Linked DNA regions of Homo sapiens: region 1 is linked to region 2. A link means that fine-mapping ties the variant in region 2 to the expression of a gene that starts in the linked region. Tissue or cell type: whole blood. Region 2 holds a variant in brackets; the other region holds the start of a gene. All regions are shown on one strand. Distances are from middle to middle.

What was found. PIP is the estimated chance that this variant, and not a neighbour inherited with it, causes the effect.
Region 1: GGA1 starts here. The variant in region 2 is fine-mapped to the expression of GGA1 in whole blood (TOPMed, PIP 0.91).

The regions. Positions count from the first base shown.
Region 1 is chr22:37,604,784-37,612,831 of GRCh38, reverse strand. It overlaps GGA1 (golgi associated, gamma adaptin ear containing, ARF binding protein 1), which reads right to left and starts at 3,998. Exons shown (of 17, transcript NM_013365.5): 1 at 3,929-3,998. The coding sequence starts at 3,971. RefSeq lists enhancers at 3,169-3,278, 2,993-3,614, 4,219-4,388, 4,539-4,618, a silencer at 3,609-4,058 and a cis regulatory region at 5,363-5,822.
Region 2 is chr22:37,627,215-37,635,269 of GRCh38, reverse strand. GGA1 (golgi associated, gamma adaptin ear containing, ARF binding protein 1) reads right to left here. Exons shown (of 17, transcript NM_013365.5): 12 at 5,744-5,808; 13 at 5,100-5,272; 14 at 4,171-4,367; 15 at 3,105-3,274; 16 at 2,755-2,865; 17 at 1,706-2,669. The coding sequence ends at 2,559. Among named protein-coding and RNA genes, the nearest start is that of SH3BP1, 8.4 kb to the left of the region's middle. RefSeq lists enhancers at 843-932, 1,713-1,872, 1,093-1,966, 2,233-2,292, 2,473-2,532. The variant G/A (reference allele first, on the strand shown) is at 3,261.

The sequences.
Region 1 (8,048 bases), 22 kb after region 2:
GAACCTCCATTTCCCCATCTTGTAAAGCTGGAATGAAATATGGATTTTTTTTTTTTTTTGAGACGAGTCTCACGCTGTTGCCCAGGCTGGAGTGCAGTGGCACGATCTCGGCTCACTGCAAGCTCCGCCTCCCAGGTTCATGCCATTCTCCTTCCTCAGCCTCCCGAGTAGCTGGGACTACAGGCACCCGCCACCACGCCCGGCTAATTTTTTTTTGTATTTTTAGTAGAGACAGGGTTTCACCATGTTAGCCAGGATGGTCTCAATCTCCTGACCTTGTGATCCGCCCACCTTGGCCTCCCAAAGTGCTGGGATTACAGGTGTGAGCCACCGTGCCCGGCTGTATTTTTTTTTTTTTTTGAGACGGAGTCTCGCTCTATCGCCCAGGCTGGAGTGCAGTGGTGTGATCTCGGCTGACTGCAAACTCTGCCTCCCAGGTTCACGCCATTCTCCTGCCTCAGCCTCCCGAGTAGCTGGGACTACAGGTGCCCGCCACCACGCCCGGCTAATTTTTTTTTTTTTTGTATTTTTAGTAGAGACGGGGTTTCACTGTGTTAGCCAGGATGGTCTTGATCTCCTAACCTCGTGATCCACCTGCCTCGGCCTCCCAAAGTACTGGAATTACAGGTGTGAGCCACTGCGTCCGGCCTGTATTTTTTTATTTTTATTTTTTTTTGAGAAAGAGTCTTGCTTTGTTGCCCAGGCTGGAGTGCAGTGGCGAGATCTCGGCTCACTGCAATCTCAGCTTCCTGGGTTCAAACGATTCTCCTGCTTCAGCCTCCTGAGAGTAGCTGGGATCACAGGCGTCCACCACCATGCCCAGCTAATTTTTTTGTATTTTTGGTAGAGATGGAATTTCACCATGTTGGTCAGGCTGGTCTCAAACTCCTGACCTCAAATGATCCACCCACCTCGGCCACCCAAAGTGCTGGGATTACAGGCATGAGCCACTGTGCCTGACCAAAATATTGATTTTGGATGACAAAATACTTTTTGCATGGGAAGGCCATGGCGGCAGCCAGAGCTCGATCTTCATTTCTCCACAGCCCACCTCTAAGGACCACCCCTTCCCAGCCAGTTCTGCCCACGCCTGAGCACCGAGCTGAGGGTGTGGAAGGACACAGCCCAGGAGGTAGAACAGAGAAGGATCTGTGGACAGGAGGCTGGGGACTGACCCAGCATGTGGCGCCTGCCCTGGGCCATATGTTATGGCAGGGGGCCCAAAGCCCTGGAATCCCAGTGGCTGGCCGCCATTCATCCAACTCAGATTTAAGTATTCTGGGTGCTGGGGCTCCAGCAGTGAACAGACAAAATCCCTGCCCTCCTCAAGTTCACTGCCCAGCAAGAGAAACAATGAATACTCAGATTAACAAACCCCGTGTACTGCAGACTGTTGCAAAATGTTACAGAGCAAAGCATAGCAAGGAGAAGTGCAGACAGCCTGGGAGGTGGGGGCTGCTCTCTGGGAGGGCTTTCGGAGGGCTCTGGAGCCCTCGGGAGCTGCTCTCTGGGAGGGCTCTCAGAGCTGAGCTGAGATCGGAAGGACGAATGTTCTCTCTGGATCTAGATCTCTGTCCCAGGAGCTCCACAAGACCCTCTAGTCCCTCAGAAAAATGAAGCCCCTGTTGACCTCCTGGGGATACCAGGAATATGACCCTCCCCAACCCAGGGGTAAGGGTAACTGTCTACTCTGCCTCCGAGTCCCCAAACAAAGGCTGGGGAACATCAGTCTAAAGTTAGAGAATCACTGCCCATTCAATGACACCCAGCCAGAAGACCCTAAAACAGGAAGTCCCTTAAAGTGTCAAAGACACGTGAGTTGGAGTGAGGTCAGAGAAGCTGATTCTGGACTGCTCCTGGGTCAGACGCCAGTGAAGAGGAAGCGCTGGCATCATGAGACATCATCTTTCTCCCCCTGCCTCTGGCTGAAAGCCAGGGCCTCCAGATCCAAGGAGATCTGACTGACCTCCTTGGCCCATGGCCCCTGACCCTCAGCCCTCTTAATTCTACCTGAGGGGAGTACCCTCCCTAGCAGGCAGTTGGGGAGAACACCTAGAGAGGGAGGGAGGTGTTTCACAACAGGGTAAGACTCCACCCTGCCACTCTATAGTGCTGACAATAACATCATTTACCTCACTAGGCCGGGCGCGGTGGCTCACGCCTGTAATCCCAACACTTTGAGAGGCCGACGTGGGCGGATGAGTGGCTAACGCCTGTAATCCCAACACTTTGAGAGGCCTATATAGGCGGATCACCTGAGGTCAGGAGTTCGAGATCAGCCTGGCCAACATGGTGAAAGCCCACCTGTACTAAAAATACAAAAATAGCTGGGCGTGGTGGCGCACCTGTAATTCCAGCTACTCGGGAGGCTGAGACAGGAGAATCACTTGAACCCGGGAGGTGGAGGTTGCAGAGAGCTGAGATTGTGCCACTGCACTCCAGCCTGGGTGACAAGAGTGAAAACCCGTCTCAAAAAAAAAAAGAAGAAGCTATCCTTTACCTCCAGCCTCCACAAGGGAAGAGGAAAGATCTTACAATTCTGCTAGGACACAAAGGGGGAAGGAAAGGAGAAAATCCCAGCCCCAGTGTGTCAGGGCCCAGCCAAACCCAGGTATCTCTAACTTCTGCCTGGTTTTAGACTCTCTGGACTCTCAGAAAACCCCCACTGTTTCTAAACCTGAGAATGTTTTGTATGACCCACAGCTCAAGACCTGTGTCTGAGATCAGTTAGCCAGGGGCCCACCCATCCCCCCAGCCCAGTTGCTGCTGAGACCCAGGCGGACACTTCCGGCGTTCACAACGGTCAAGGGCTGCTGAGTGCCCCTTTTCCACCCCCTGCCCCTCTGGTGGCTAGGATGACTCTGAAACATCCCTAGAGGTTTGGTTCTGGGGCCAACCTCATGGTTCAACTCTGCTCAAGCCTGGCTTAAAAGGGGCCGGCCATGACCCCAAACCACGCTAGACAGTTGCCGGTGTGCCCGGGTCCAAGAGGGTTCCCTGAGGCCCTGGCAACGACGGGGTCCCAACAGCAGTTAAAGCCTTGGGAGAGAACCCTCACTAGACCAGGGAGAAGCCAGCCACGGCTTTCAGAGGCAGAGTCCAGGAGCGGGGCTGTGAGAGCAGGGGATCATCAGGGCTGTGGGTTAAGGAGCTCAGGTGGAGGGTTTGCGGGCTAGGAAGCCTAAGCAATAGGAAGCTACGTCTGAGGAGAAACAAGAAAAAAAGGGGTGTAGAAGCCTTTGAAGGAAGTTCAGCAAGAGCTGGGAAAGGCATCTTGGAGACTGAGGGGTTAGGCTGAAGGGAGTGACAGGGAGCTTGGAATTATTAATACTTCTGGAGTCTAAGACTCTCCCAAGCCTGTAGGGTGCGGGGGTTTCTCACTATGTGGCTAGAGACTAGGAGCGGCGGGAGGAATCAAATGGGGCAGTGGGTCCTCCCTTCCAGGACGGGGTAATGAGCAAATGTGACTACTTGCGGGCTCCAGGAACGCCATGCAGGGCCAGAGAGTGGAGGATTCGGGGCCTGAAAATAGTAGGGTCCCTCCCTCCCGGGTGTGAGATGCAACCCCGGGGAACCGCTCGCGTGCTCCTTCCCCGGGCCGCTACTCCGTGAAGCAATGTGAGCCTTGGGGGTTGGAGGCTGCTCTCTCCGTCCCGGGGGTTCCCGGCGCAGCTCACTCGCCGTCCCAGGGGTCATGGCCCAGGGATCCGACAGGTGGGCGGCGCCCGCTCCCACCGCTGGACCGCGCCGGGGCCGGGGTCCTCCATCGCTCCAGGGTCTGAGGGGCCGACTGAGGACACCGCCCCTCCCGGGCCGGGGGCGGGGCGTGAGGAGGGGGCGACCCGTACCCCGCCCCCGCCGGGAAGGGGCCCGCCTCGTGCCCCCGGTTCCGGTTCCGGTCCGGCCCGCGCCCCTCCCGGACACTCACTGATTCGCGCCTCCAGAGTCTCCGGCTCCATCGCGGGCTCCATCCGCCACCGGCCCCCAGCCTCGGCACCGCCCCCCCGCCCCCCGCAGCTCTCGCGGGACCTCCTGGGCACCGCCCTCTGCCGATTAAAGGGGCAACGTCCGAACGGGCGCGCTCGGCACCATAGAGAGGCCAACGAGCTCGCCTAGAGCGTCACCTACTCGCCCAACCCCACCCCCACGCGGCGTCTACGTCGCAGCTGGGACCGGCCGCCTGCTTTTCCGTTCCCGGCGCTCAGGCGGGAGAGGAAGTGGAGATACTGCAGGCTAAGGGCAGCACCATGGAAACCCCAAGGGACGCTCTAACTCGTTCTGCGTCACGGAGATGTCTGTGACCGCCTCCGGAAGAATTCTCTGCGGGCATGTTGCTGAGGGGCTCTGAGGCCACTTCCGGAGCCCTGAGCGGGTACTTCCGCTTAGAGTCGAACGTGGGAGAGTCCCTTAAAAGGGCGATAAGCTACATCCTCATGTACCTTGGCCGCTGTGAAAATGACGAAAATAAATCAGTTTCTTGAGTGCTTACAGTATTCTGGGCATTGTCCTAAGCACTATTTGTAATTAATCCATTTAGTTCTGACTCCTTACAACAAACCCACCAGATAATTAGTCGGCCTGAGGCCGCACAAGTAGCAGAGCTTGAACCCTGTGCCGTCTCCTCCATTCATCCAGCCAACGTTTAATGAACTCTTTGTATTTGCTTTGCTCTGTGATGGGCACAGAAGGAGATAGACAAGGCCAGATATTTATTACAGTGTGATAGGGGAAGCCCACGGGGTAGTGGGAACAAAGGAGGGGGCTCCTCCCCCAAACTGGGGTGGGGTGGGTGGGGGTGTTGTCAGGGGAGGGGTCGTGTCAGGGGAGGGGTCGTGTCAGGGGAGGTTTCAAGAGAAAGTGATACTGTACTTCGCTCAAAGACAGTCGGATTTCTCCACGTAGAGCTGGTGCGAAAAGATATTCAGGGAGAAAAAGTAGGATGAAGGCCGAGGAGGGCGGATCACGAGGTCAGGAGATCGAAACCATCCTAACACGGTGAAACCCCGTCTCTACTAAAAAAAAAAAAAAAAAAAAATTATCTGGGCGCGCCTTTAGTGCCAGCTACTTAGAAGGCTGAGGCAGAAGAATCGCTTGAACCCGGGAGGTGAAGGTTGCAGTGAGCCGAGATTGCGTCACTGCACTCCAGCCTGGGCGGCATAGCGAGACTCAGTCTCAAAAAAAAAAAAAAAAAAAAAAGTAGGATGAGTCCAGGGAGTTGGAAGTATTTCAATACGGCTCCCAGATATCTGCAAATAGATATCTATTTGCAGGAGATATCTTGGAATTAGGCTGGGGCAAGATCACCCAGGTCCCATGTTTTGCTGCCCTTTTTTTTTTTTTTCCCTGTAAGCAACGTTGGAGGTGTCGTTACAGTTTTACGGATGGTAGCAAAGTCAGGCTTTTGTTTTAGAAGGGTCCAGCAGTGGGAGGAAGATAGCAGTGGGAGCCAGACTGGAATCGGGGAGGACAGTACGAACAGACTTCCTAAGCTCGGCGCCTTTTCTCCTGTATCTCCCTCCATCAAAGACCTCCCTCACCTTGTGGCGTCACGACCTGGCGGCGCCTGGTCCCCGACTCACCTGGGTCCATTGCACTCTGTCGCCCCCTCGCGGCCGGCTGGGAAACCGGCCCGTGGCGACCTCTCCAGCGGTCCTGTGCCTGGGAGGGTTAAAGCTCCACTGAGACTAGGGAATCTGGCGAATCCGGTTCTGCCTTGGCGACTGACCTCGATTCACCTTGCGGAACCGCAGTAACCTCATCCAGGAGATGAGGGGGCTGTGCTGGGTCAGTTTTTCCCCTAAACTCAACCATTCAGCGACTGGGATGCTTTTCTAAATTCTCTCCCAAAGGCCATTGAGATTATACAGGGAAGTGATATGTATGTTTATTGCATTCCTCAACAAAAGCTGTAACGTAGTGTATACTTATAGCTTTTTGTTTATGTCTTTTACTACTGAAATGAATTATATATATTTTTTTATTTTATTTTATTTTTGAGACGGAGTCTCTCTCTGTCGCCCAGGCCGGAGTGCAGTGACGCGATCTCAGCTCACCACAACCTCTGCCTCCCGGGTTCAAGTGATTTTCCTCCCTCACCCTCCCGAGTAGCTGGGATTACCGGCGCCTGCCACCACGCCCGGCTAATTTTTTCATATTTTTAGTAGAGACGGGGTTTCACCATGTTGGCCAGGCTGGTCTCGAACTCTGGACCTCAAGTAATCCACCCGCCTGAGCCTCCCAAAGTGCTGGGATTACAGGTATGAACCACTGCGCCCAGCCTATTATATTTATTTTTGAGACAGAGTTTTACTCTGTCGCCCAGGCTAGAGTGCAGTGGCACGATCTCAGCTCACTGCAACCTCTGCTTCCTGGGTTCAAGCGATTCCCCTGCCTCAGCCTCCTGAGTTGCTGGGATTACAGGCATGCGCCATCATGCCTGGCTAATTTTTGTATTTTTAGTAGAGACAGGGTTTCGCCATGTTGGCCAGGCGGGTCTCGAACCCCTGACCTCAGGTGATCCACCTGCCTTGACCACCCAAAGTGTTTGGATTACAGGCGTGAGCCACCACGCCCAGCCTGAGATGAATTATTACTGAAATAAAACTCACATCGCATTTACTGCATTCATTTAGGGACATGTCTGTGCTGTCAGGAGTCACTTTTAAAGACAAAATAGATTTGATTTAGGTGCAAATTCTGACTTCACTGCTTTCTGGATGATCTTGAACAAGTGTGTCTGCAAAATTAATCCCCTACCACATGTTCCCTACCACCTTTTCTGCTGAACTTTTCTCCTTAGCACTTATCTCCACTACATATTTCATTTCTTTGTTGTGTTTTGTGTCTCTCTCCCCCACCAGAATGTAAGCTCCACCACGGCAATGGATTTTATTTAGTTACTTCACTAATAATATATCCCCAAGCCCTAAAACAGTAACTGTTACACAATAAGTATTCAATAAATATGCATCAAATAAATGAATGAATATGCCCAACATTGCACAGTGAGTATGGGGGTTTGGAGAGGCGAGCCAGGCTGTGCTTGTAACAAAGGCTCTAGGCTGTCCCTCTGAGTTCTGGGGAGCAGGGCGTGATAAGGTAGACTCAGGAGCTGTGTCTATGCGTGAAGGGCCTGGCCCAAACTGGGGATCAGGGTAGGAGGTACGGTAGGAGGAACCTAAAGATGGTGAAAGGAAGGAGGACCAACACGGGAAACTTGGAGGAAATGCCTGTGGCAGCCGTTCCCACCCATTCCCCACCATGAGCAAATGTGTTGCTTTGAGAGACTTGAGGAACCCCTGAGAAGGGCAGGTAAAGCTCAGCTATAATCACCTAAGCCATGCCGACCTCTAAGGATTTAACACCTCAGCTCCTTCCTAAGAAAACCCCTGGAACACTGGAAACGTTGGTGAGGGAGGGCTGGGGCGAGGGAATAGGAGCTGGGGAGATGGGCATCCTTGCAAACTTGGAGGAGAGATATGGGGGAGGACATGCAATTCTTTCTTGGAGGAGGATTGTAGAAGGTTCAGGAAACAAACTGAGGCGTGGCCCCAGCCTCAGCCCCTGTGACTCCAGTCAGATCCTGCATGTCCCTTCCGGGCATGGGAACCTCAGGGGAGGGGGGCACAGAGGACCATGGTTGTCATTGTCGCCTTTAATATTCCCACAGACCTCAGAGTTGAATTCTATTCTTCCTGTTTTACAGATGAGAAATCTGAGACTCTGAGCAAGGATGTGGTTGGCCAAGGCCCCCACGTGTCTCCATCACAAGAGCCCACATCAGAGCAAGTCCCTGCCTTCAAAGGATGGAAAGCACAGAAGCAGGCTGGGCGGGGTGGCTCAAGCCTACAATCCCAGCATTTTGGGAGGCCAAGACGGGTAGATCACTTGAGGTCAGGAGTTTGAGACCAGCCTGCTCAACATGGTGAAACCCCATCTCTACTAAAAATACAAAAATTAGCCAGGTGTGGTGGTATGCACCTGTAATCCCAGATACTTGCGAAGCTGAGGCACAAGAATTCCTTGAACCTGGGAGGTTGCAGTGAGCT
Region 2 (8,055 bases):
CTCAGACAGATGCAGGGCTTCTGTGGTACCTTATGTCTTTGCTCTCAGGGTGCCACACTGGCTCCCAAGTCCTTGCCAGCTTGTGAACTCTTAGGACAGGGGCTGGCCCAGGGGCTGCTCAGGAAACACTGGCATGACTGACAGGATGGGTGGGTTAAGGACAAGGCAAGGGACAAGGTCCAAAGGCTGAAGGGACCCCACCTTCCCGTCCCCGGAATATCCTGGGTCACTCCAAAGCTGACAGCCTGGCTCCTTTGTCCAAGGACTCCTCAGAGGGACCTTATAGCTCATTGAGTCCCTCTCCCCTTTTCCAGAAAGGAAAGCATCTTCCTCAAAATCACACAGCAAGCCAGTGACCCAGCCAGAACCAGCCCCCAGACTCCCAGCTCACAGTCCCACCTGTTCCCCATGCCAACCTGTACTCCTCCCTGCCATGGCCAGTAATGAAGACTGTGCTGGAGGTGGGACTCTGGCACCCCAAGTGGATGCTGCAGGGGTTATGGTTTCATTTCAGGTAGAAGAAACTTCCAACCGGAGTTATCTTCAGGAGACATCACAAGTGTGGAGGCGAGTCCTGCAGGGTAGGGAAGGGGAACAGGAACGAGGCCACGTGGCTGGGACAGGGTGTCTGGAAGCCTCCAGGGGCCAGCCTCTGTCTGGAGGGCTGTGCCAGGGTGGGAGTCCCACTGTAGGGATCTGATAGGAGGCTCCCGCAGGGTGCAGCTAATGCCTCTTGTCCCCTCAGCAGTAAGGCGGACATGGAGGAGCTCTCAGCCTGCGCTTTCAGTGTGGGCCCAGCAGAGAGGGGCCCCTTGCTTGCTGATGAGTGTTAAAGAGCACACACGCTGGGATGCGGGTGTGCTGGGCAATTCTCCAGCATGTCACAACTATATCTAAGGAGAAGGGTTCAGCGGCCAAGTTCAGATTGGGAAACACTAGATTAGACAAAGTGAAAATGGCTTCTTAAATGAGGGACTTCCCAGGGTCTGTATGGGCTCATCTACTCAGGAGAAACCGTGCGCAGCCTCCCTGGACTCATCTGAGCAGGGAACACTTTCCTGCAGAGCCACACGCAGGGCTGGCCTCCCACACAACAGGGCCCATCTGCCTGGACCAGCGCCCCCTCGCTCCCAGCTGTGTGGCCTCGAAGCCACGCCCAAGCTTGGACCCCAGCCTCCTGGTTGGAGAAAACTGATAGCACTGTGTGGGGGAGAGCTGCCGCTGCGAGTGGCAGGGGCCCAGCTCAGGGTCCCTGGGTCTGCTCCCAAACAAACTGCGATTGGTGCTGGGCAAGGGAGTGATGTCTGGGGGGAGGGAGAAGCTGGGCTTGGACTTCCCTCTGGGGTGCTGCAGCATCGAGGTTGTGTGGAGGGCTGAGCACAGCAGGAGGAAGTCGTGAGCAGCCAGGGGCCTCCCCCTCGGTGTCTGTAGCAGCTGGGGCTCCTGCCAGGCCCTGGCGGTCGCCCACTTCCAGCTGGGACGGTCCTGGTCCGCCACAGCCCAGCGCCCTCTCTGGTGACTCAGCACTGGCCACAGGCCCCTTTGCAGGGCCTTTTCCGGTGCAGGGCCCGGGGGGTGGTGGGGAGGGGGCCCACGGCCTGACCTCCAAAGACGGAAGTGGAGAGGTCTACAGGGCAGCCCTAGGGAACATGGACTCAACCCCTCCCATCTCCCTCAACCTCCAAAGGGCCACGAGAGCAGCTGGTCCAGGAAAAACGACGTTTTATTTTCATAAATACTCCTGCTCTCACTCACACACTGACCCCACTTCTGACCACGGACAGATGGATGGACAGACGTAAGACACCCATAGGAGGCCCCAGCAGAGGCCAATGAATGAAGGAGACACACCGAGAACTCTAGGTGCCCCACAGCCCCTCGCTGGGGCCATGGGCCTCTGGCATTACCCTTGAGCCCCCACAGTCCCTCAGGGGGCCCAATGGCAAAGGGAAACCCCCAGGAGTACGGGCCAGGTGAGGTTCCCCCAGCCTGGCCCCCTGAGGCTGTGACCACAGGGCCAATCCGGAAGAAAAGCAGAGTCAAACCACACACCAGAGTGCAAATAGCTGGGGGTGTAGGCGTCACCCCCCAGTCACTGGGTTCCTATGGAGGAGGCCTAAGCTGGTCCCCAGCTCCAGCATGGCCCCCGAGTTATGGCTGGGCCTTCCCATAAGGCATAAGAGACAGGTGGGGAAGACCCCACCCCAGCTGGGGTTGGGGCTGGGCCTGAGGTCCTGGCCCTTCCCCAACAGCTGTGCTTCCTCCCCATGACCCAAGTTCTTCCAAGGCTACACAGCCCCTCCCTCTCCAGGTCCCGGTGATGGAGACCCCAGCGGCACAAACCCAGGCCCAGCCTCCTACTGGGTTTGGCTCAGCAGGGGCGGGGCCGGAGCAGGAGGGGGAAGAGTCACTTGAGGCCTACAGGGGTGTGGGGAGAAGCACCAGGCCTGGGGGTGAATGGCCATGGGCAACAAAGGGTGTCCTTGGCCACCAATGCCTCCCTCCAGGCTGGACAGTGACCGGTCCCTCTGCCCCTTCCTCTCCCCAGCCCCTCTGTTCTAGAGGCTACCCCAGGTTTCAGGTGGGGGGAACTGGTCCACATCCCCCATCTCGTTGTAGGTCTGGTCACCCATGGTGAAGGTGAGCTTGTAGCGGAGGCGAACCTTCTCCTGGGGAAGAGATGGCAAAGGCAGAGGGGTCAGAGGAGGAGAAGTGGCCGTCCCCACCCTGCAGCACTGCCTGGGGGCCCCTTACCTTCTGGGGGTTGGCAAGCAGCAGGACCTGGGTGATTGCTGAGGGGTGGACGATGGGGTTAAAAGCTGGCAGCTCCGTGCCCGAGGGTGGCTGCAGCTTCACCTTCATAACCTGTGGGCAGATGGCAGGATGGGCACAGCTAGCCCTGGCTGCTTGTCCTGCTCTGAGGAACCAGGCCCAGCCTGCCAGCTCCCCTCCGGGGATCCTGGGGCTCAGTCCTTCTGGTCCCTTCTACACCAACCACCCAGCAAGGGAGGGAGACCTGCCCCCTGACAGGTGGCTCCCCACCCAGCTCCATGTCACCCTGCCTTGAGAGGAGGGAGGCATGCCCTGTCCGACTGGCTTGTCACCTTGGGGACAGCTGACTGGAACACGATGTTGCGGATGGGCTGGGGGGCGGTGCTCAGCATGGAAACCACCACCACCAGCACGTCGGAGCGCCCTGGCAGTGGGTCCCGGGCAAAATGGAAGAGGATGCGGAAGCCGTGCTGGTCATACACAGTCAC[G/A]GGCAGGATGTTGCCTGTGGGAGAAGGTGGGAGGGCGATGGGACAGCTGAGCTGCAGCACATCCGCTCAGCCCCCAGCCCCCACCCGGCTGGCCTCAGGAGCTGGCTGCTGTACTGGCAACAAGAGCAAAGTCCTCCTTTGGGGCCTTACCTGGACCCTGGGTGGCAGTGCAGGCAGGGGCACAGAGCGGTGCCCAGAGAGGGCAGGTGAACCCCCAGTCTGATAGTGGAGGCAGGACACCCACCCCAGAGCCGAGTCACAGCCCAGCTTCCCCCGATGCTGTGTGGCTGCTGCCTGGAGTGCTGGGGTGAGGGACTTGGTGAGGGTGAGTCTCACGCTGTGTGACCTTGCGGCAGTCACTCCCCTTCTCTGAGCTCAGGGTTCTCCTACTGGTGAGAGGGGCAGCTCTGCCCACTGCTGGGAGACACTGTGGGGGTAGTGTCTTTGGTCACAGGGAGCTCATAGAGGGCAATGCTGAGGACCACCAGGCCTCATGTGTCTGCTTGGGGCCCGGGGCTGGGCCATGGTCCCCTTACTGCTCCTGGGCTGGAAAAACCCAGCCTTGGATCTGGGTCTTTATCATGGTTCAGTTCTGTAATCTGGGGGAGACCCCAAACCTCTCTGTGTCCTGGGCCCTGCCTTCCTGGGGATGGAAGGGGCCCAGAGCCTACTCCCTAGAGGTCTTCTTGCTTATATAAGCCTGGAGTTTGTACAGCAGTCCTCTGATTGCTCTGGGGCAGATAAGGAAACTGACTCCTGGGAAGGGGAGGGCCTTGTTCAGAGCTCCCCTCTGGTTGGCCAGTGGCAGAGCCAGGGGAGCCCTGCTTTCCCACTAGCTTCCCCAGACAGAGCTCCTGACAGGGCAGCAAGCTGACCCAACCCAGCCTGCACCTGCCCCAGCCCTACTCACTGGGTTTGATGGACTCCAGGGGCACAGTGATGCTGGCCAGTGAGAGCTCGGTTGGTACGGGCTGCTGCGGAGGCCTGGGGGGCTCTGGGGACACGGTGTGGAGAAGGCTGGTGGCGCTGGAGCTGGGGGAGCTGCAGCTGCTGCTCTTATTCTGCAGGTCCCGGAGTGTGAGCCGGGGGGTTGGCTGCTGCTTCTCCCTTAATCGGGGGACAGTGCATTAAGAAGTGATTCTTGGCCAGCGTGGTAGCTCACCCCTGTAATTCCAACACTTTGGGAGGCTGAGGCGGGCAGATCGCTTGAGCTCAGGAGTTTGAGACCAGCCTGGGCAACATGGCGAAACCCGGTCTGTATAAAAAATACAAAAAACTAGCTGGGCGTGGTAGCGCACACCTGTGGTCCCAGCTACTCAGGAGCCTGACGTAGGAGAATCGCTTGAGTTTGGGAGATGGAGGTTGCAGTGAGCCGAGATCATGCCACTGTACTCCAGCCTGGGTGACAGGGTGAGACTCCCTCTCAAAAAAAGAAAAAGTGATTCTTTGGTGATGGAGAGATCAGGGGCACAGGAAAGGCTGGCACGTGTGGCTATCTCTCTGGCCTTGGGTCTTACCTTTAGAAGGAGCAGCTCGTGTTCTCCCTCCACCCTGCACCCCACCTATTCACTCCAGCCCAGTGTCCTCCCCTCTGCCGGCCCTCTGGACCTTTCTCAAGGGAGCTGGGAACACCTGGGGGGAGGCCAGGCCAGTGGGCCCAGGTCTGCCTTGGGCACTGTTGTGTTTCCAGAGGCAGGTGCACTGCTTGGCATCTGCTGCTTACAAAACAAGACAGCAACGAGCCTCTCCCTGCTGGGCCTGGACAAGCCCAGGAGAAGTTGCTGGTTTGTGGGAACAGGGAGTGCTCCCCACCCCATGCCAGCCATGGTGGGCCCTCACCACCGCACTTGCTGGGATTCCGGGGGCAGCGACTGCTGCAGGAGGGTCTTCCCCAGGAGGTCTAGGTCGTCCAGACCGCTGCTTGCTGGCAGGGATGTCTGCGCTGGGGGTCGGCTTTCCATACTGGGGGCCTGGGCCAGAGCAGGGGCTGGGGGCTCAGTGGCATCCGACGACTGTGGGGAAAAGGATGCAGGTGGGGTGGGGCTGTCTAGAGAGGTGTCAGCATCACCTGATCCTGCCCTGAGGCTCAGTGTCCTCCTTGCAAATGACATCTGGGAAAGCAGCCACAGAGGTGGGGACCCCAGACCACCCATGTCCATGATGCAGGGTGGCTGGGTCTGGTTGGGGGTTCTACAATCCAGGGACCTCTGTCACCCTCAAGGGAAAGGAAGAGGGATTGCCCATCTCAATCCCAATCCCAAAGGCTGGGCTGCAGCCCCAAGGCTGAGACTTGGGGAAGATACAGCTGGAGGTAAGGGGAGGCCCTGTACCCTGGGTGGGTGTCTCCAGGCCCCTGGGCCACCCCCTGGCCCTGGGCTCTTGAGTAGAGCCCATCCATCCTTTTAGTTTCTCCAGGCCACTTGTCCCAGCTGCCCTGACCCTGGGACTGGGACAGGCCAGACTAGTTTGTGGTCCCCTCCTACCTGGAAGCTGTTCCATCCGGTACCATCCAGGCTTGGGCCTGAAGGGGGTGTGGGGTCACTGAGGCCTGAGGGGAAAGCAGGAGAGAGGTGAAGGAGCTGGGCTGACCCTGCAGAGGCCAGAGAGCCGAGGGGCCATGTGTGCTGGCATGGGGCTCCCTACCCCTTTCTGAGGCTCAGCACGGAGGGGAGAAACCCACATTTTCAGAGGGAACCAGCAGCAGAGCAGAACCAGTAACCAAGATCCCGGCAACCCCTTGTGCTGACCCCACACACGCTTCCCCTCTTCCTGGCCAGGCCACTCCAAAGCTCTGTGCACACAGACAATAGACATCAGGACTTTCATCTTCACTCGTCATCTGGCAGCAGAGAGCCTGCAGGGCTGGGCTGCAGGGAGAAGAGGTTCCTTTCCTCACGCATCCAGGCAAGGGGAGAGCAGCTCTGTGCCTGCCACTGGCCCACTCGAGGGACGCCTGCTGGGTGACTGTGGGCTAGGCACTGTGCTGGCTGAGCCACAGTGTCCCCAAGAATACGAGGACAGGGCTGGACTGGAGGCGACGCTGAAGGCCCTCTTGGCCCTGGCACATGCCAGTGAGGCTCACTGGTACTATGGAGGGCTGGGGATCCCTGTGGATGGCCCTAGAACTAGCTGCCGATGGGAAGGAGGCAGCAGGTCACCAGCCAGCCTGACCTCTGCCTGCCCTGGAATACTGTCAGCCAAGTTCACCCCAAATCTGACCTAGAGAAGATAAGGGATCTTGTTTCCAACAAATCCTGAAAAAGTGAGGTCCAAACCGAAGTGCTACCTGACAGGCAAAGGCAAGGGTACCAGGAAGCTGTGACAGTGGGTCCCTTCTAGATGCACTTCTTAGAGGCCAGAGATAAAGTGCACTGATGATGCCCTAGATGCTTCAGGCCCTTCAGATGCTGGTCTTGCTTAATCCTCAAACAACCTTCAAAGGTAGGGGTGAGCTTCTCAGCCCTCTTTTAGGGATAAGAAAATGGACTCAAAGTTGGTAAATAACCTGCCCGAGAACACACAGCTAGAAAGTGGCAGAGTCTGGACTCAGACAGAGCATGGCCTGACTGCCAGCATTTGAACACAACTCTGCCACTTGGCTGTGTGATATTGGGGGGTGACAGCCTCATCTGTAAAATGGAGACACCAGCCAGGTGCAGTGGCTAATGTCTGTAATCCCAGCTATTTGGGAGGCTGAAGCTGGGGTTTGAGATAAGCCCTGGCAGCATAGAGACTCTACCCCTAAAGAATAAAAGGAAAAAAAATTAGCCAATGCCTGTGGTCCCATCTACTTGGGAGGCTGAGATGGGAGGATTAGTTGAAGCCAGAAGTTTGAGACCAGCCTGAGCAATATAGTGAGACCCCCATCTCAAAACCAAAAAGAGGTGGGCGCAGTGGCTCATGCCTGTCATCCCAGCATTTTAGGAAGCTGGGGTGGGTGGATCACTTGAGGCCAGGAGTTCAATACCGGCCTGGCCAACACAGGTGAAACCGTGTGTCTACTAAAAATAAACTAATTAACCGGGTGTGGTGGCACACACCTGTAGTCCCAACTACTCAGGAGCCTGAGATGGGAGGATCACTTGAGACGGGGGAGGTTAAGGCTGCCTGAACACCCTCCTTGAGGGACAGGAACCTGTCTCCCACCCCTGCCGTGAAGAGTGAGGACCAGCCCCCTGTGTGGCCCCAGGGCCTCCTCCATTCCCCAGGCCCAGGCTGCAGGCTGCCCTGGCACTTCCGGCTCCTGTGCCCCCATGCTTTGCCTCTGAGAGGAAAACAGAAGGAAGCTGGTGGCTCAGAACTATGCCAGTGCAGTGCGGGGACAGGAAGTGCGGCTGCATCTCGCTTCTCTTGTGGAGGTGGTGCTGCAGCTGCTGGCTGGGGGCTGGTGGCCCTGCAGTACTTCCCCACCCACTGCCCCTCAGGTAGCTGCCACCCAGGGCTGGCTCCACAGGGGAAGATAAACCTTGTATGAACGTTCCTGTCCCTTGACCGTCCTTTACTTCTCTGTAGAATGGGGTAAAGGTCCTCTCCCTGCGGTCACCCTTGGCTCTGAATGAAGAGGGGGCGGCTGCATGGGGCTCGTAAGCAGCTTCAGGGAGGGTGCTGGCTGCTGGGTTCACAAAGGGAGCTCACAACTGGGCCTCCTTTCCCCTCAGCTCTCCTTCCCCTTCAGCTCTCCCTCCACACTCCGGGTCCTCATTTCCTTTTCCTTGCTTATGAACAACGAGTCAGAGCAGCCCAGCTGCTCAGAGTGTGGCTTCAGGATCAGAGCCCAGCTCAAGTCCTAGAGCCC